Linked DNA regions of Homo sapiens. The protein of the gene in region 3 interacts with the protein of the main gene of each other region in a pairwise test. Each region holds a gene or a part of one and is shown on either strand. Other genes may lie near its edges.

Region 1 (5,799 bases), on a different chromosome or scaffold from region 3:
CTCACACACACACAACACAAACACACACACACACTGAATAATTAATTTTCTCCTATATTTAAACACAACCGTAATGTCCTCCAGTACCTAACATTTCATATTTTCCCTTTTCCATCATAACATTTCAGATTTATTCAAATATTTCATAATTTTATATTTAATCACCTAGTTGACATCTTCTGAGAAAACTCTAAATACTCTTTTAAAAATGTAAACAAAAAGCAAATATGATTGTCAGCAAAATGTGTCTTCCTTGAAAACACACCACCATTATGAGTGTACTCTCAATAATTCTGTTAAGAATCCAACCAGTTTTCATGGCAGAAGACATGCACTTGCTCAGTCTTTTAGGCACTGGCATGCCCGGAGAATCTCCCCACACACTAGGCCTGATGACATTACCGATGGAAATGGATGTCCAAGGAAAAGACGTCTGGGGGCCTGGAGCCCCCAAAACAGATCACAAATCAAACTTTGGAAACCAATAAAAGACAAAGAGAACATATTGGAATCAACAGTAAATGAATTTATTACGTGAAACAAAACTGAACTTCCATATACTTTATAAGATGAACTTACGTGATAACGAATCACTTGTTTCAAAATTATAGACATTTGACTCTATATTTTGCTCATTCATTAATTTCACAGTCTGAAAGAACTAGCCTGTCCAGCCAGTACTTGATGCCAGAGAAAGGATGAAGAGCTAGTAGTAAGAGGGGTTAGCTCACATTGCTGGAAATGCCTATGATAACAGCTCTACGTAGAGACTGAGACACTTTGCTTAAAAGGTCTGGAAATTCAGCAAGTTGATCTGCAGAAGGTTGATCCATAGGCTGGTCTGTAACAAGGAGACTGGCAGCTCCTAGAAGCCAAGTAGGTTGGGCGGCAGAATCCAGATCCATAGCCGAGGGAAGGGAAGCCACAGCTTCCATAACCCAGGGATCTGACACCACTGGACCCACAGCCCACTGAGTAGCAGCTCCTCGATCCATAGCCCAGGGAGCGGCAGCTGCTGGATCCAAAGCCTAGAGACCCAGAGTAAGTCGTCTTGCAAGGACTGCAGAGCAAGGAGGTTCTGGGGCGGTAGCAGGAGGTCTGGCAGGGGCTGGACTCCACATAGGACGTCTGGCAGCTGGTGGGCTCCCAGCAGATCTCCTGACAGCCCCTATAGAGAGAGGAACCCAGCTGGCAGGTGCTGGGAGAGCAGAGGTCAGTGCTGTAGACCAGATTGCTGGGGTAGGAAAAGCCACGTGAGGATGCTGGGTAGCGCAGGTAGTCACCACAGGAGCGGGAGGAGAAGTTTCCAGAGCAGCAGTTGTAGGACATGTTGACGGGAGATGTGAGTTCAGCTGAGTTATAGTGGAAAGATTCTCTGAGTTTGAATGTCATAGTCTGGACTCCAAGTTATATATGCTCTTAGACCTGGGTGTGTCCACTGTCTCGACACTCCCTTCTCCTTGCTCACTTTTTATTATAAGAATGCTTCCCTAGGTTATTGTTTAATTTATCACATCTTCATATACTTACTTGTACTTTAGTCACTCTGGAACACTTAGAAGGAAGCCACTCAGTTTTTTTTTTTCCTGGAATTCACTGTGGTTTGACCTTCAATGTTATATGTCATCACATTTATGAGTATCTTGCCTCTTATTATTTGAGTACAGTGAGTCCTTATTGTACCAAATGGAATTACACAAAATTCTTTCTTTACTTCCCTTAAGTTATCAGGAGCATCAGTGGTTACTACTCAAAATAGATTGTCCTTCTTTTTAACACAAGCATATTATTTGTTACCAGAAACGGAGGATTTCTCCAAATACTAACTGTATTCAGTAGCCTCAGCAATCTGTCAGTTAAACCTTTTACTAGTACCTTAAGAGCTCAGGATCAGAACTGAGGAGTGCAGCATTATGTTGGGTGTCCATATCAGGCATCTTCCTTAACAAGAGGCTACTTTAGACAATGCTCACTTAGGAAACAATAAACACAAACTTTTTAGTAAGACTTTAAATTGAAGTTTTTCAGATATTTTCTGATGAACCTATCTTGTAGCAAGCACTATTCTATGGTTATGCTCTAAATCAACTCATAAATTTTATTTTGTTTTATGTTTCAATTTTTTTTTCTGGATAAAAGGACAGATTCTTAGCTGCAATTATTAATTTATACTTAAACTTTGAGGAATTGTTAACATTTTTCTGAAGCTTTTAACTTGAAGTATTAGAGTTATATGGGTCTTTAAACATCCCCTGTTCAACCCATACATGGAAAAATTACCTCTCAGAGAGCTTTAACTTTCCCCTAATTTCTCAGTAAGATAGAAGCAAAATTGAAGCTTTAATTATGGTTTTCTTATTCAGAGTCAAGTTGCAAATACCTTGCAAATATAAAAGTAAATTCAACTTTAACTTGTCTCAGAAAAGAAACTATTAAGCTTATTTATACTAAGATATAAAAGCCTAACAAAGCCTTATTTACTTTTCCTAACAATATTCACACTGAATAGTGTTCAACTGGGGAATTCTATGCCTTACTGATCTTCATACATTTGAAGTATATTTCACTTCCTAGCCCAAGAAAGAGAAAGAATATTGGTAATCCATGTTTAGATTAATGGGGGGAAGAGGCTTCTTATCTGTGTCTATTCTTCTTCTTTTGAATTTGACATTTTATTTGGTTTAACTAAGGGAAATGGCATTCACAATGGTTATCGAAAAGAGAGCCTCTTAACTACCTGAAAATTAACTTCCTTCATTCCAAAGCACACTGTTTCAGAGCACTTAGTTACTTTGTTTTATGATTATCTCTCCCATGCAGAATCCAAAGTGTGGCATGCATCACATGAAGTGCCCTTGTGCAATACTTAAACCATCACTCTGATTCACTGAAGTAAAATAAGCTGTGCTTTATGAATGGACACCTATTAAATTCACCAAAAAGTATGCACCACCCCCAACACATGGGATTCCTTATAATGGCAGCTTTTAACACCTTTAAAATGAGAAATATTTTTCTTTTCTTACTACAGGTTGATTCTGCTCAAAAAAAAGAAAACAAAAAACTTACTAATATCCAAAAGTTCTTGCCTTTCTAGACCAGCTCCCTATGTCTGGGAATAAACACTAAAATAACTTGGGAGTAAGTCAGTTCCAATTAACAGTCCCTCCACCCATTCCTAATTGGGTTAACACTTTTTATTAGGAGTTATTTGTGCACTTTGTACAAATGCTAATGAACAACTCCCAAATGCTAATAAATGTGTCCATCTGAAAGGCAGAAAAAGCAGAACAAAACTAGAGTAGCCTTAACAGTTCAAAAGTGGATTCTGGAACTAATAAAATACTCTACGTACTCTACATACACAGGCAAAGTATTAGTATAGAAAGAAAAATTCACTATCTTGATATGTCAGGGAAAACGTGATATTGAAATCTTTTCTCTCTCTCTCCTTCCTTCCTTCCCTCCCTCCCTCTTTCTTTTTCTTTTTCTTTCTTTTCTTTCTCTGCCTCTCTTTCCTTTTCTTTTTCTTTCTTTTCTTTCCCTCCCTCCCTCTCTCTCTGCCTCCTTCCCTCCCTTTCTCCCTCTCTCTCTTTCTCTGTTTCTCTTTCTTTCTATTTCTTTCTTTCTTTTCTCTTTCTTTCTTTCTTCTTTCTCTTTTCTCTTTAGAAATTTAGGCATAACAACACTACAGAGAATAAAACTATCATTACAGTACACAGTAGCCACAAGTAGCCTATGATCTGAATTACTTGAAAAGTGATTGTTTTTCCAAGTTAACATAGTAATGTAGCAGAAGCTTTAAACTGACAATCTTCTATTGCAATGTTTCCAGAGATTCTTCAAAAGCTTTCAAATTAACCAAATATTAGGCAGTAGTAGAAATAGTAAAAATCCATATATACTGCCCTATACCTTTTTTACTTTCTTTTTTTTTTTTTTTTTTCCGAGACGGAGTCTGGCTCTGTCACCCAGGCTGGAGTACAGTGGTGCAATCTTGGCTCACTGCAAGCTCTGCCTCCCGGGTTCACACCATTCTCTTGCCTCAGCCTCCCGAGTAGCTGGGACTACAGGTGCCCGCCACCACGCCTGGCTAATTTTTTGTATTTTTAGTAGAGACGGGGTTTCCCCATGTTAGCCAGGATGGTCTTGATCTCCTGACCTCATGATCCACCCGCCTCGGCCTCCCAAAGTGCTGGGATTACAGGCGTGAGCCACCGCGTCCGGCCACCTTTTTACTTTCTGTTCACTTTTTAATTTTCTGCCTTCTCTAGACCTAGGAGAGGCTTTTATTGTCTGGTCACTAAAGAGTCTTCATAACAGCTGCTTTACACTAGATTTTATTTTTAAAATTCTCACCCAAGGGGAAATGTATCTATTAAACATTAATGCTAACTATGAAGAACCCACTACTGAGTAAAGGCTTGATGAGAACTCCCTGGACTAACCTGTTCATGGTCTCTTCCCAGTCCCCCATGCAAGCCTACCCAGGCCTGTGGCTTTCTCGGAGGTCATCCGGCCTCATTGTTTGAGACTTTTCCAGGCCCTGGCACCTCCTCTAACTTCACTACAGCTCTTCCTGCTTCAAATTCATCCATTTTATGTCTTCATCATCCATGACTTTCGTTTGAAATAAAAAGGCCAGGCTGGGCGCAGTGGCTCACGCCTGTAATCCCAGCACTTTGGGAGGCCGAGGCAGGTGGATCACGAGGTCAGGAGTTTGAGACCAGCCTTTCAAACATGGCGAAATCCCGTCTCTACTAAAAATACAAAAATTAGCCAGGCGTGGTGGCAGACATCTGTAATCCCAGCTACTGGAGAGGCTGAGGCAGGAGAATCGCTTGAAACTGGAAGGCAGAGGTTGCAGTGAGCCAAGGTCATGCCACTGCACTCCAGCCTGGGCGACAGAGTGAGATTCCGTCTCAAACAAACAAACAAACAAAAAGATTTATAAACAGCCTGCTTACACACCTCTCGGTTCTTCTTATCTCTTCTGAGACCTTACCCTTGCATTTACTGAAAACAAATAGAAAATTAAAGTAAATTCTAGAGTCATTTTCTGGATGCCTAAACTCACAATTGTTACCACGTTGTCAGATTTGCGTTCATCTTTCTCTTTTTTATTTTAAATGTTTATGGATACATAATGTTGCGCATATTAATGGGGTACATGTGATATTTTGATACAGGCACACGATGTGTAATGATCAAATCTGGGTAACTGGCATATCCATCACCTTAAACATTTATCATTTTTTTTGTGTTGAGAACATTCCAAATCTACTTTTCTAGTTATTTTGAAATATGCAATACATTATTGTTAACCACAGTTGCTGTACTGTGTTACTGAACACTAGATCTTATTCCTCCTATCTAACTATATTTTTGCACCCATTAACCAACACCTCTCTGTCCTTTCTTTCCACTACCCTTGCAAGCCTATGGTAACCACCATTCTATTCGCTATCTTACAGAGAGAGACCCCTTGTGGGCCAGTCTCTCAGTCTGATTCTTTTTCATATCTTTCCAAAGGCATCACAATAATGCATTCGTTTTTGCATAGCATTCCAGGAAATTGTCTATACATATATTTATCGGTTTATACCATTTATTGTTGTTTTAAGTTACAAAAATGCCATCTTATTGGATACATATATGTATCTGTAGCTTTCTTTTTATATTAAATTTATTTAAATAAAAATATCTAAAACATATCCAAGTTGATATTTATATATTTGTGCATTTATTATCACTACAGTAGAACTTTTAAATGTCAGGCACTGTTCTCAGCACTGTATT
Region 2 (7,680 bases), on a different chromosome or scaffold from region 3:
TTTCGTTTTTCTTTTTTTTTTTTTGAGACCAGGTCCTACTGTGTCACCCAGGTTGGAGTGCAGTGGCATGATCATGGCTCACTGCAGCCTCGACTTCCTGGGCTCAGGTGTTTCTCCCACCTCAGCCTCCTGAGTAGCTAGGACTACAAGTACACATCACCATGCCTGGTTAATTTTTTATTTTTCTGTAGAAACAGGGTCTCATCATGTTGCGCAGGCTGGTCTCGAACTCCTGGGCTCAAGCAATCCTCCCATCTCAGCCTCCCAAAGTGCTGGGATTACAGCACTTTGAGCCATTGTGCCCAGCCGATCCTGCATTTCTAGCAAGCTTCCAACGGATGCCATATATGGCTGGGCCCACGTTTTGAGTATCAGGGATAGAGGTACCTTTTACGTAGCACTTCTGTGTCCTAGGTACTGTCCTAAAGCATATATCTAGCCAAGAGGCAGCTCTCTCTATATTCCCTTTCGTTAATTCTCACCAAAATCAGCACCAAAATGGGGTCTACTATTATCCCCACTTTGATAATGAGGAAATTGAAGCACTGAGAAATTAAGAAACTTGCCCAGGCTGGGCGTGGTGGCTCACGCCTGTAATCCCAGCACTTTGGGTGACCAAGGCAGACAGATCACCTAAGGTCAGGAGTTCGAGATCAGCCTGGCCAACATGATGAAACCCCATCTCTACTAAAAATACAAAAAAGCCAGACATGGTGGCGGGCGCCTGTAATCCCTGCTACTCGGGAGGCTGAGGCAGGAGAATGGCTTCAACCTGGGAGATGGAGGTTGCAGTGAGCTAAGATTGCGCCACTACACTCCACCCTGGGTGACAGAGTGAGACTCTGTCTCAAAACAAGAAAAAAGAAACTCGCCTAAGATCACACAGCTATTAAGAGATAGAGCTGAGGCCGGGCACAGTGGCTCACGCCTGTAATCCCAGCAATTTGGGAAGCTAAGATGGGCGGATCACCTGAGGTCAGGAGTTCAAGACCAGCCAGGCCAACATGGTGAAACCCCATCTCTATTAAAAATACAAAAAATTAGCCAGGCGTGGTGGGAATTAGTCAGCTACTGGGAAGGCTGAGGCAGGAGAATCGCTTGAACCCAGGAGGTGGAGGTTGCAGCGAGCCGAGATCGTGCCATTGCACTCCAGCTTGGGCAACAAAAGCGAAACTCTGTCTAAAAAAAAAAAAAAAAAAGAGAGAACTGAGATTCAAACCCAGGCCAGATGGCTCCTGTTTGCTTTTAATCACCCCACTGTACTCCCTCATGGTACAAGAGTCTTGGTCCAAGGTCTCCATTTGCCCACTGGATTATTTCCTTATTAGACTAGATTCCTATTCCCCGCCCTTGAGTTGTTTGCAAAAAATGCATCAGTGGGGGAGGACAAAGACAGGGCATCCCTGATAAGATTCAGAGAACACCCTGCTGGCTCCAGTGTTCCCAAAGAACTTGCTGCAGATGTAACAAGATGTCACAGATTCTCAACACCTTACCGCCTCCTGCCCCGCCCAGGACTACAGAATCAGCATCTCTTCAGGTGGCACCAGAAATGTATACATTAATACATTCTATGCTTGTTAACAATCCAGCTCCTGTGGCTGGGATGCAGGAGTCCCCTCTCCCACGCTCTTCCCTTGAGCCTCAGGAGACAACTGACTGCAGGAATATAAACCCCAGGAATTCTCTTAAGAGAAGCCAGCGGCTGCGTGCCTCTCCCTGGAGGCCCTCCCTTACCTTCCTCATCCCCTGGAGGGTAGAGTTTCAGGAGGGATAGATCATCTGGGATAAGGCGAAGGCTGCTTTTAACCTGCAAAGACAAAGAAGGGAGAGGGGTCAGGCCCAAGTCCTTCCCCTACCGAAAGAAAAAATTGGGGGTAATTCTTCCCTGACACCCAGCTCCCAAATCCTCCCTAAGATCGTGGACACCTTGGCCCTCTCCTGGCAACCTAGAAGTCCAGCTTCCCCAGGATTCAGAATGGAAGTACCCTTCACCCTTTCCTCCATCTGCCTAAGACACTCTGAAATGTATGCTTCCTTGCCCTTTTTAACTAGGTTACTAGCCGCCCCTCTACCCCTGACTCTTAGGGACTCTCAGCCCATTGCTCACACGACCATCGGGGGACCCCAGCCTCTGGAGCCGCCCAGTCCTCTCTGAACCCGCATGGACCCCAACCCCCAATACTGCAGCTCCCTGGCTTCATTTGCCATGGACCCCAACCTCAAAATCCAACGGCCCCAGGTCCTCCCAGTCCCTCTCCAAAATCTCAGGAATCCCAGCTCTTCAGCCTCCCTGTGCCCCCAAGACTCTAGCTCCTAGGAATCCTAAACTTCCAACGCATCCCACCCTCCTTCACCACCCCAGTCTGCAGAAAGTCCCGGAGCCCTGCCTCTCCCTGCCTCCAACACCCTAACGCCCGAGGACCAGCCCCAGAACGCCAGCCTCAACACCCCTATAGCCCTACCCTCCCCGAACGCCGGCCCCTCCCTGGAGGCCAAGCCCTTGGCCCTTCCGCCGGTCCCCTCCCCGGGACCGGGCGCACCTTCCCCGAGTACACCGGAACCAGCGGCGCCTCCCCCGGATCCAGCACCAGCCGCCGCCGCCGCCTGACCGGCTCCCGCGGGGGTCCTGCGGGCCGCCTGTCCTCCCCTTCGCTGTCACTGTTGCTGTTATCCCGGGACGCGACCGGCCCCGGGGGCTCCGGGGGCTCCACCTCAACCTCGTCCGCGGCACCGCGAGCGGTGGCGACCTCCAGAATTTCCTCATCGCTGTCGGTGACCAAGTCCACAGACACTACGTCCAGCGTGCCCCGGGATGGAGACCGCTGGGCCCGAGGACGCCGGCCCCGACCGCCCCAGCCGCCCCGACCCCCTCGGCCGGCACCGCTACCTCCGGACCAGCGGCCCCGCTTCCCCACAGGCTCCGCCATGGCACACTTTCCTCCACAACACACGCCCGCCTCCTCTCGCCTCGCCCCGCCCCCTTCAGCGACTTTCGCCTTGCATTGGACAAACAGCCTGCTCGTCAGCAACTCTTCGCGCCCCACGCGCGGGATCCGCCTTCCCGCCTTTTCATTGGTCTCTGTACCCGCTCATCATGCGCCCACCTCTGAAACCAAGGCGCCAAAGATTCCAATCACCTCGGCACAATCACCGTAGCTTTCGATTCAGTCGGCCTCACCCATTGGCTGGGCCACCTCTCCACAGACGAGCCTCTCCCGGACCCGCCCAACCAAGACAACCGTCTTCCGGCTTGGTTAGTCGCAGGGCATCCTGGGAAATGTAGTCCTCGAGCGGTAAGGTTTCCGGGAGAAGGAAGGCGGGCCTGGAATTCCCTGTGGAAACCGCGGATTTAACCAGGCGCGGTGCCTCACGCCCGTAATCCTGGCACTTTGAAAGGCTGAGGCGGGCAGATTGGTTGAGCTCAGGAGTTTGAGACCAGCCTGGCCAATGTGGCGAAACCGCGTCTCTACTAAGAATGCAAAAATTACCCGGGCGTGGTGGCACCCCTCTGTGGTCCCAACTACTCAGGAGGCTGAGGTGGGAGTTTCGCTGGAGCCCGGGAGGCGGAGATCGCACCACTGCACCCCAGCCTGGGTGACAGGGCGAGACCCTGTCTCAAAAATGCTTTAAAGAAATAATAAGGCTGGCCGCGCGCGGTGGCTCACGCCTGTAATCCCAGCACTTTGGGAGGCCGAGGCAGGCGAATCACGAGGTCAGAAGTTCAAGACCAGCCTGGCCAACACGGTGAAACCCCGTCTCTACTAAAAATACAAAAATTAGGCGGGCGTGGTGGCGTGCGCCTGTAATCCCAGCTACTCAGGAGGCTGAGGCAGGAGAATTGCTTGAGCCCGGGAGGCAGAGGTTACAGTGAGCCAGATCCTGCCGCTGCACTCCAGCCTGGCCGACAGAGCGAGACTCTCTCTCAAAAAAAGAAAGAAAGATAGAAATAATAAGGCTGGGCGTGGTGGCTCACGCCTATAATCCAGCACTTTGGGAGGCCGAGGTGGGCAGATCACCTGAGGTCAGGAGTTCGAGACCAGCCTGACCAACATGGTAAAACCCTGTCTCTACTAAAATACAAAAATTAGACAGGCGTAGTGGCAGGCGCCTATAATCTCAGCTACTCGGGAGGCTGAGGCAGGAGAATCGCTGGAACCCAGGAGGCAGAGGTTGCACTGAGCCAAGATTGTACCACTGCACTCCAGCCTGGGCAACAGAGTGAGACTCCATCTCAAAAAAAAATCTTATGTATTTATTTATTTTTAAATTTTATTTTATTCATTTATTTAATTTTATTTATTTATTTATTTTGAGATGGAGTTTCGCTCTTATTGCCCAGGCTGGAGTGCAATGGCTCGATCTCGGTTCACTGCAACCTCTGCCTCCCAGATTCAAGCAATTCTCGTGCCTCAGTCTCCAAGTAGCTGGGATTGATTACAGGCGTGCACTACCATGCCCAGCTAATTTTGTATTTTTAGTGGAGATGGGGTCTCACCATGTTGGTCAGGCTGGTCTTGAACTCCTGACCTCAGGTGATCCACCCCCCTCCGCCCCCGCCTTGGCCTCCCAAAGTGCTGGGATTACAGGCGTGAGCCACTGCGCCCGACTATTTATTTTATTTTTTTCTTTTTCTTGATTCGGAGTTTTGCTCTGTTGCCCAGGCTGGAGTGCAATGGTGCGATCTCAGCTCATTGCAACCTCCACCTTCAGGGTTCAAAGGATTCTCTTGCCTCAGCTTCCCGAGTAGCTGGGATTACTGTTGCCTGCCACCTTGCCCAGCTAATTTTTGTATTTTTAGTAGAGACGGGGTTTCACCATGTTGCCCAGGCCGGTCTTGAACTCCTGACCTCAAGTGATCCACCTGGCTCGGCCTCCCAAAGTGCGGGGATTACAGGTGTGAGCCACAGCACCCAGCCTGGCATATGTAAATCTTCATGATGGCTACATAAGCCACTTGCCAGTCTCCAAATTCAGGAATTCAAGGACCTGGGAGCCCTGACGAAATGCCGTCGTCAAGGCAGTTAGCTCTCTTGTCTCCCATTTCCCCTAGGAGGGAAAAGCTTGGCTTCAGTCTTGCTCCAAGATGCAGGCTACCTCCTGTCCTAAAGATATGAAAAGTTTGTGTCTACTCACCCCTACCATACAAGCCAATTCAATAACACAGGTGGTCACCCCACTTACCATCATAAAGTTAGACTGGGGCCAGGCGTGGTGGCTCACGCCTGTAATCCCAGCACTTTGGGAGGCCGAGGCGGGTGGATCACTTGAGGTCAGGAGTTCGAGACCAGCCTGGCCAACATGGTGAAACCCCATCTCTACTAAAATACAAAACAAAATTAGCTGGGCATGGTGGTGTGCGCCTGTATTCCTAGCTACTTGGGAGGCTGAGGCAGGAGGATCAGTTGAACCCAGGAGGTGGAGGTTGCAGTGACCCGAGATCGAGCCATTGCCCTCCAGCCTGGGAGACAGAGCCAGACTCTGTTGCAAAAGAAAAAAAAAAAAGCCAGGCGCGATGGCCCATACCTGTAATCCCAGCACTTTGGGAGGCCAAGGCGGGCGGATGACAAGGTCCAGAGATTGAGACCATCCTGGCTAACACAGTGAAACCCTGTCTCTACTAAAAAATACAAAAAATTAGCTGGGCGTGGTGGCGGGCGCCTGTAGTCCCAGCTACTCGGGAGGCTGAGGCAGGAGCATGGCATGAACCCAGGAGGCGCAGGTTGCAGTGAGCCGAGATTGCACCACTGCACTCCAGCCTGGGCGACAGAGCGAGACTCCGTCTCAAAAAAAAAAAAAAAAAAAAAAGGCTGAACTATGTTTGACTAAAGGTGTTGTCACGTCCTCTTACGTGAGGACTAGTCATTGTTTATCTTGAAAACATGGTATTGCAACCACCCCTATAAACTTGAGAAGAAGGGAGAGGGAGAAATGAAAAGAAACCAAACTTGCGGTGCACTCAGCATTGATCTCAGGGCAGCTGCTCCCTGACCTGCTTCCCCAAAGCCATCTGGTGCCTGTTGCCCCACAGTCACACAGCCCCTGTCAGAAGATTATAGTTCCCCTTAACTGCTCTTGAATCACGGCTTGGACATTACATTAGGTGTTCCCTTTGAGATATTCCTTCAGGTCTTGATGGAACTACTGATTCAGCTGACCTGAAGGACCCCACAAGGAGCTGACTCCCCGCAAAATGCAGCTTCTACACCCTGACAATTTCATCCCCCTTCCCAACCAATCAATGACCCCAATATTCCAGCCCATCACTCCCCACAAACCCCTTAAAAGCCCAGCCCAGAACTCCCTGGAGAGAGATTTGAGGGTCTCCTCCCATCACCTCGCTCGGCACCCTGCAATCATTAAACTCTCTCTGCTGCATCCCCACCGTCTCAGAGTCACAGAGCTGTGACTGCACAGTGGGCATATGAACCTGCAGCTCCTGTAACAATATGGAATTTGAAATTTTATCTTGAAAACAGGATAATGGTTTACACCTGCTTGGCTGTAATGAAGGATATTTCTTTTTGCCTTTGCAATCTTTTACCAGATTGCCAGTGATGTGCATCACATTCTAACTTAATGCTTATTCAAGCCGGGTGCAGTGGCTCACGCCTCTAATCCCAGTACTTTGGGAGGCTGAGGTGGTTGGATCACCTGAGGTCAGGAGTTCGAGACCAGCCTGGCCAATATGGTGGTGTATTTTTCTACTAAAAATACAAAAAATTAGCCAGGCATTGTGGTGGGCACCTGTAATCCCAACTACTCCGGAGCCTGAGGCAGGAGGATCACTTGAACCCGGGAGGCAGAGGTTCCAGTGAGCTGAGATTGTGCCATTGCACTCCAGCATGGGCAACAAGAGTGAAACTCCATGTCAAAAAAGAAAGAAAAATTATGCTTATTCAATAATAAAACCAGCCCGGGCATGTTGGCTTATGCCTGTAATCCCAGCACTGGGAGCCTGAGGTGGGAGGATCACTTGAGGTCTAGGGTTCAAGGCCAGCCTGGGCAATATAGCAAGACCCTGTCTCTACAAAAAGTAATAATAATTAGTGGGTGTCGTGATGCACACCTGTAGTCCTAGCTACTTGGGAGGCTGATTGAGCCCAGGAGTTCAAGGCTGCAGTGAGCTATGATCTCACCACTTCACTCGAGCCTGGGCAACAGAGCAAGACCCTCTCTCTAAAAATAAATAAATACATACAATTTAAGGCCAGGCACAGTGGTTCACGTCTGTAATCCCAGCACTTTGGGAGGCCAAGGTGGGAGGATCACTTCAGGCTGAGCGTTAAGACCCGCCTAGGCAATATAGTAAAACCCCCAACTCTACGAAAAATAATAATACATTTTAAAACTTTTTTTTTTTTGAGATGGAGTTCCACTCTTGTTGCCCAGGCTGGAGTGCAGTGGCACAATCTTGGATCACTGCAACCTCCACCTCCCGGGTTCAAGCGATTCTCCTGCCTCAGCCTCCTGAGTAGCTGGGATTACAGACATGCGCCACCACGCCTGGCTAATTTTTTGTACTTTTAGTAGAGATGGAGTTTCACCATGTTGGTCAGGCTGGTCTCGAACTCCCAACCTCAGGTGAGCCGCCCGCCTCAGCCACCCAAAGTGCTGGGATTACAGGCGTGAGCCATCACGCCAGGCCCATTTTACAACTTTTTAACCAAAAATAATAAT
Region 3 (7,322 bases):
ATTCACCTGCTGAGAGTGAGCCTGGGGGTGCTGGGTGGAGAGGAGAGAAGAGTCTGAGAGAGCAGCTGTGGGGAGCTGCAGGGAGGAGTGTGTTAGGGAGAAGGGAGGAAGACGGGGAAGAAATACATGTCCTGGGTATCCTGGAAGGGTGGGAAGAGTCCAGAGGACAGACCACCCGCCTGAGTGGTGCCACAAGTGCCACTTAACCCATCAGCTTCTCTTGGCTACTGTCTCCCAATACAGACACAAGTCAGTGTATCACAACATGGGTGACCTTTGCTGTCAGCCCTTGGTAGGTATCAGGTGCTATGTGAGCCTCTTTACACAGATAACTTAATCTGTCTACATGTCTGTCTTTGTTCAAGCTCTATTGCCTCAAATAAAATATTTTGATCGTGTTTAAAAAGCTATCAGAAATGTAGTACAGAATATTAAAGATTCCCAAATGTCCATTCCCAATGCGGCAGTTAACAGCTTCCCTGATATCTTTTTTTGGTCCACATTTTAGAGCTAACATGTTTCCCTAAAGATAGGATAATCTTTTGCTGGCTAGTCTACTTCCTGCTTTCTTTTCACTAAACAATACACTGTAGGCACTTTTCCATACCCAGGGAGATGACCGACCATTCTTTTCAAAGGCTATCTGGTATTTCACTTTGTGGAAAAAGCTATTTGGTCAAATGTCTATTAGTGAAATTTAGGTTGTTTTCAGCTTTTGCAGTATCAAAAACATAATTAGCATTCTAACTTTTAACTGTACACTGTTATCCAATTACTTCCCTGGGATAAAGTTCCAGAAGTAAAACTTAAGGTCAAAAGGTATGTATCTGACATTTACATAATCAGAACACCTGACACCCCCACCAACACTGCACAACTACCCAGAATTCTTCAAACCTCTATCAACACCACTTTCTGCTGTTACTGTCATTTAGACTTATATACCTGACACCTGGCCATTTGATTTTTTCTTTTTTTTTCTTGAGAGGGAGTCTTACTCTGTTGCCCAGGCTGGAGTGCAGTGACACGATCTCGGCTCATTGCAACCTCCGCCTCCCAGGTTCAAACAATTCTCCTATCTCAGCCTCCCGAGTAGCTGAGATTACAGGTGTTTGCCACCATGCGTGGCTAATTTTCGTATTTTTAGTAGAGATGGGGTTTCGCCATGTTGCCAGGCTGGTCTCAAACTCCTGACCTCAGGTGATCTGCCCACCTCGGCCTCCCAAAGTGCTAGGATTACAGGCATGAGCCACCATGCCCAGGCTTTTCTCCTTTTTTATTATTTTTATAAAGATGGAGTCTCACCATGTTGCCCATGGCTGGTCTCAAGCTCCTGGGCTCAAGCGATCCCCTTGCCTCGGCCTCCCAAAGTGCCGAGATTACAGGTGCCCACCACCATGCCCAGCTGGCTTTCTTTTTTAATGAATTGCTTCTTTGTGTCCTTTGGCCATTTTTCCATTCTGAAATAATCCCTATATTTCTTATTGATATATATATAACAGCTCTTTATACACACACACGCACATATATATACATTAAAGTTATCAATCTCTTGCTATATAAGCTGTCAGCTTTCTTACTTTTTTTGACTTTCACATATTATGGAATAGTCATCATTTTCTTTTATACAGCAGTCTGGTTTCCACATCAGTTCATCTCTTTCAGATCACTGTATACACTTAATAATGTTGAAGTGTTGATCAGTCCCATTGATTCTCATTCCTTGGCACTCCCCATGAGCCTCGCACCTTTCGGCTGGCTTCTCTCCATCTCCTCTCCCACAAGGGGTCCACCGTAGCACTGTATTCTACACTACAGTGTGGGTGCCAGGAGGGCAGAGACTCTTCTTATCACTCGTGCATCCCCAAGAGCACCCAATGTGGTACATATTTGCTGGACGAAAAAACAACTAGAACCACCTCCTTACCGGTCTCTCTGCTCCTGTAATATATTCTCTACACCCTAGCAAACAGATTGAACTTCTTTTACCCTCTCTCTTTTTTTTCCCCCCTGAGACAGGTCTCCCTCTGTTATCCAGGCTGGTGTGCAGTGGTGTGACCATAGCTCACTGCAGCTTTGAACTCCTGGGCTTAGGCGATCCTCCCGCCTCACCCTCCCAAGTAGCTGGGACCACAGGTGCACGCCACCACACTTTGCTAACAGACTGATCTTTTAAAGATATAAATCGAATTATGCCTCCCAGCACACTTTAGACTAAACTCTAAACTCCGTATCAAAAGGCCCGCCAGGTCCCTGGTATACCGCTCTCCAACCATCCACCTACCCTCTGCTTCAGGAACCCAGGCCTTATCTGTTTCTCAGCGGTGTCTACCGGGGCTGGATGAAGGCTGGCTCCTGGTCACTCAGGACTCAGCAACATCACCTCCTGCGTAGGCCAGCTGATGACCCTAACACCGGACGGCTGCCCTCTTCCCTCTCTAAACCACTCTACACCCCCTCCTCGCTGGTCTCCTCCTTTGTCTTTCACGCCCTCTGAAAGTCCTGTTGATATGCTAATTTACACAATCTCTCAAAAGAAAGGAAGCGTGAGGAGGATAGGGACCCCGTCAGTCCCCGGCTAGGTCGCGGGGCATGGGGCGTGGAGGGGTGGGGAAAGCTGGGCCCCGCAAGGCGCTCCGAAGCGCCGCCCCGCTCCCTCCCGGCGCACCTGGGCCTCGGCGTTCCGGCGCTCCTCCCAGTCGCGGCAGCTGGCCAGGTCGCGCTGCCACTGTTCGCAGGCCGGCCGCTCGCCGTGGACGTAGTAGTGGTGTAGGAAGTGCCTGGCGCTGCGGCAGAGCTTCCACTCGGCGCGGTAGGCCTCGCAGGGGCGCGGCGGCTGCGGCGAGAGGCGGCGCCTGAGCGGGGCCCGGCGGCCGCGCCCTACGCCCCGAGCCAGTCCCGTTCCCTCCCTCCGGAAGACCCCGGTGGTTCCCGGCTCCGACCCAGCACACTCACCTGCCAGCCGCTGCCGTCCGCCATGTCTGGGCGACCGGCGCGCCAAGCCCGCCCCTCAGTCCGCCAGCCAATGAAAAATGAAGAAAACGGCACCTCGTGATCGACTGACAGAAGAACTAATGAGCACCGACACATTCAATCACGTCTTCGCCCCCTTCTTCGAGAAGCGCCGACAAACAGGACGAGCAACCAATAGCAACCGAGGGCGGCTGCGGCGCGCGCGGAGGGCCGGGGTCGCAGGGTAAATCCGGGGCGAGACCTGGCGCGAAGCCTACGCGACCACCGCGACGACAGCGCCATTCACCCCGGGCCAGGCGGGCATCCTGGGCCGCGCAGCTACCTTACGTCAGCCGCCTCTCAAATCACACGGCTCTGGCCAGTTCTTTTCAGCAGCTTTATGAGATTTTCTCAAATCTCAACAATCCGGTATATTTTCAAAAGTACATACTGAGCATCAAGGTGGTGCAGCGAACCTCCCAGATCTGCAGCTCCAGCAGTCTTGCTTGAGCGTCCACTCAGGATGGAGGTGAACTCGCAAAGTAACTGAGATTGGTTGGGCATGACATATGGTGGATCTAGGGTTGAATGACCTCCCCAGGGAACGCAGGCTTGAAGTGGAGGCTGAGAATGCAATCCGAGTACAGCCATAGGCCGGTCAAAGGTATGGAGGCGGTGTGTAGCAGGGGTGAGCGGGGTAGGAGTGGCTTGGATGTCTGTAGTTCTATTCTAAGGGTGCGGGAGACATGTAACATTTACCTTATTCATTTTTCGAGACAGGGTCTTGCTGTGTCACCCAGGCTTAGTGCAGTGGCGTGGCGTGTTCATGGCTTACTGCAACCTCAAACTCCTGGACTCCGAACAGCTGGGACCAAAAGCATGCACAGCCTCACCAGGCTAATTTTTAATTTTTTTTTTTTTTTTTTGTAAAGATGGGGTCTTGCTAAGTTACCCAGGCTAGTTTGGCCTCAAGCGACCCTCTCACTTTGGCCTCCCAAAGTGCTAGGATTATAGGCGGAGCGCCAGTGCCTGGCTGGGACGTTTATAAAAAGGAGCAATGCACAAGAGGCAACAAAGGCAAGTAAAGAGGAGGCTGGTGGGCTTGCAGAAACGCCCTGCAGTACCTATGCTGCGGTTCTCCCACTTCACTGATAACAAATCCTCAGTATCCACTGATACAAATCCTGGGACTGCTGGGCCAGTCCCAGGAATGACACTGGGACAGACTCCCTGGAGGTGGATCAGAAAGCTGCAGTTTTACCAGGGGTCCTGCTGTTGAGGCAGCCGGCTCAAGGACCAAGCCCAAATAAGACACTGAGAGGAAGGCTGCAGGCCAGGGTGCAGGAGTAATGACCAGGATCAGTGCTCCAACTGGCCCCACTGTGTCATTAAAAGGCTCTGCAATGGAATCCATCCTGGTCCAGGCAGGGGAGTGTGCCTCCAGCAAAGGACCAGGCGTTTCACTGCATACACAGCAGGTGTTGCTTAGTGAAGACAAAAACCCAGAGCCAGAGGTACTGTAACATTCTTCATTATGCATAAAGTGACAGTCTGTTAGCTGATGTGATCCTGCAAATGAAGGCTGTCTACCCACCAAGGGTTTCTCCCTCTGCTAGTAAAACTGAGACTTTGTCAGTGGAGGCTCAGGTAAGTCCCCACAGTGCTCATGCCTTCCAAAACCACGCCCATTTCCAGTGATGATGGTTTGTGCCACAGGCCAAGTACTGAACATCATGACACTCATAGACACTCTTCACTGAAGACGTGGATAGACCCTGGGGCCACCATTCTCTCCTCTCTGGAGTGTTGGAGGGGCCCTGACCAGGGCAGGACCCCCATGTCTGGAAGCAGGGTTAGCCCTGGCTCATGGGGGACCCTGCTGGGCTTAGCCATTGCCACCTAGGGATCAGGCAGCCTTGTTTCTTCCTACTTTCTCCAGGAGAAGCCCCAGAGGGACACTTTTCTAATGGTGAGATGGAACACGGAGCACCTGCCAACAGGCCTTCAGTTATGGTCAGAGGCCCAACCACCAGTCTGTGTTAGTACCTAATCAAACATTTAGATTTAGGCTTTAGTTATTGCCTGTTTTTACTTGAAATTCTTGGCTTAGAATTATTCCCAATGGGGCCAGGCACAGTGGCTCATGGGAACAAATTTAAAATAATCAGATTAGCATGTCAAAAGATCTCACGTTATAGAAAGTGAAGATCTAAGACCAAATAAATACTGATAAAAAATACAGGCCAGCAGAAGCTTGGATGATTTAATAAATTAAAATTGGGAGTTGGGGAGTAGGGAAGAAGGAGAGGAACATCTCTTTAGCATTTGTTCATTCTAACATTCACATGTTTGCTTCTCCATGGAGTTGTTTCACTATGAACAGGTTCACTAAGGAGCCAGTTATGTCCATATGAAATGAGAATAAAAGTGCAAACTCATTCAGATCAGGTTCTTCTGAGTGGTGTTTTTGAAAAAAATATGTAAAATAAAAATAGAAACATTCTTTGTCAAATACTTAAATTGCAGCCACAGTAGTGGGACAGCCACTACTTATAGAACACATGTCTATTTAAAGCCTTTTTTTAGGCCAAAGACTGACACCTATGCAATTGATGTAGGAAAAGAAAGGATAAATGAAGAAAAAGAAAGAACACTTCATGTTAGACAATTTAGTCACCTTCATAGGTTTTGACAGAATTAGGGATGCAGAATTGCTCCTGCTGAGGCAGTGGGAGCTCCCCTCAAGCTGAAAGCGTGAAGAGGTGAGGAGGCAGCTATCTACAGGCCCTCAGGGACAGCTCTTTGTCTTTCCCCAAATCAAGCATACAACTACAAAGTCCTGCTGCTCCACTTCCAAGTCAAACTTAATAATTCTTAGGTAACTCTAAATAAATCTTAAGTAACAGAGTATTCTCTGATGAGGCTCGTCCCTGTCAGTGCCAGTAACTAAAAGCCAAGATGTTGCAAATGATTCTTTTATTATTTTCCAATCAGCCAACAGTCCTCACTTAGGGCTTTCTTCCCTTTTTACGCAATGACTGTCCTTCTCCAGAGAAAGCGACGAATCTGCCTCCAGCTTCATCCTAGGTTTGAAGAGAAGATACTATTTTCAGAAACTCCCTGGAGGTTTACAATAAATGCCTTACTCTATGGACTCACGTACCATCCACATTACTCATAAGAAATATCTCAGGCTGGACACGATAGCTGACACCTGTAATCCCAGCACTTTAGGAGGCCTAGGTGGGAGGATCACTTGAGCCCAGGAGTTCAAGACCAGCCTGGGCAACATAGTGAGATCCCATCTCTACCAAAAATAGCTCAGTGTGGTATGTGCCTATGATCCCAGCTACTTGGGAGGCTGAGACGGGAGGATGGTTTGAGCCAGGGCCATAGTGAGCTATGATTGTGCCACTGCTCCAGCCTGGATGGCAGAGCAACAGAGCAAGACCCTGCCTCAAAAAAAAAAAAAAAAAAAAAAGTCTGTAAGTTCATCACCCAAAAACATTTCAGGTCACTTTTCTGTACATGCTTAAAGAATTGTTTTCCCACTTAATTCTGAAATCTCATGCCAATAAACTTCCTGTCTAGTATACTCCCAAGGCTACAGAACTGAATTCTGTAAAAAAGAATTCCATGATGTAGGAGGGCCAGTTTTCTACCAGTGGACATTGTTGTGGTAAGCAGCTTAATGTATTTGCACACAACTCTGATTTTTTTTAGAGCTCAAATTCCTGGGTCAAAGTGTGTACACACTTTTAATGCTTTTAACATATAGAGACCAACCAGCCCTCAGAAACATTCCACTAAGCTATCCTTCCATCAGCAGAAAGAGGGATTGTTTTTTCCCAAACCTTTGAAAACTGCACATATTTTTTTTCACATGCTTTTATTGCTAGTCAGTCTGAGGCATTATCTCAACTTTTCCCTAGGAAGAAGAGGATTCTGGAATGTTCAACACACATCCCTGCACCTGGCTCCCCACTAACTGTAGCATGTTATACCTGCAATAGAGCACTGTTTAGTATTTATGTGGTCACATTCATGTAAATTTGAGTCACAGCTGCATTTAGTCTTCCTTTGCCGCACAGCCTTCCATTCATCCTGGTGTCAATAGCTGTGTTTGGCTTCTTCCTCTATTCAATCACAGCCTGCATTGCATGGAGTTCATCTGTTTTGACAAACCTGTGTCTCCTGGGCCTTCGCCCTGCCGTACCTGGACTGGCCTTTCTCTAGGTGCCGTACATGTTAGTGGGGGCTCCTTATTTCCTGGATTCTATGACTTTCTTATTTCTACCTTATTCCTTCATTTTAGTGAGGAACACCTCCTAGGAGCTTCCTGAGAAAAGATGCATGAGGATTATCTTCTT

The links. Proteins that work in one complex are often made in the same cells at the same time.
Region 1: the proteins of C22orf39 (region 3) and KRTAP13-2 interact in binary tests that used the Homo sapiens proteins (3 or more experiments, as listed by UniProt).
Region 2: the proteins of C22orf39 (region 3) and NFATC2IP interact in binary tests that used the Homo sapiens proteins (3 or more experiments, as listed by UniProt).

What each region holds. Positions count from the first base shown.
Region 1 is NC_000021.9:30,370,885-30,376,683, forward strand, and holds KRTAP13-2 (keratin-associated protein 13-2), read right to left. Parts: upstream 1,388-5,799; 5' UTR 1,330-1,387; coding exon 802-1,329; 3' UTR 506-801; downstream 1-505. UniProt on the Homo sapiens protein: In the hair cortex, hair keratin intermediate filaments are embedded in an interfilamentous matrix, consisting of hair keratin-associated proteins (KRTAP), which are essential for the formation of a rigid and resistant hair shaft through their extensive disulfide bond cross-linking with abundant cysteine residues of hair keratins.
Region 2 is NC_000016.10:28,946,262-28,953,941, reverse strand, and holds the start of NFATC2IP (NFATC2-interacting protein), read right to left. Parts: upstream 3,006-7,680; 5' UTR 2,931-3,005; coding exon 2,544-2,930; intron 1,811-2,543; coding exon 1,738-1,810; intron 1,041-1,737; exon of another isoform or gene 1-1,040. UniProt on the Homo sapiens protein: In T-helper 2 (Th2) cells, regulates the magnitude of NFAT-driven transcription of a specific subset of cytokine genes, including IL3, IL4, IL5 and IL13, but not IL2.
Region 3 is NC_000022.11:19,444,710-19,452,031, forward strand, and holds the start of C22orf39 (synaptic plasticity regulator PANTS), read right to left. Parts: upstream 3,003-7,322; 5' UTR 2,980-3,002; coding exon 2,956-2,979; exon of another isoform or gene 2,837-2,955; coding exon 2,669-2,836; intron 1-2,668. Other genes in the region: UFD1 (ubiquitin recognition factor in ER-associated degradation protein 1), read right to left, coding at 5,961-6,035. UniProt on the Homo sapiens protein: Negatively regulates long-term potentiation and modulates adult synaptic plasticity. Stabilizes the interaction of RTN4 isoform A/Nogo-A with its receptors, inhibiting clustering of postsynaptic AMPA receptors at synaptic sites.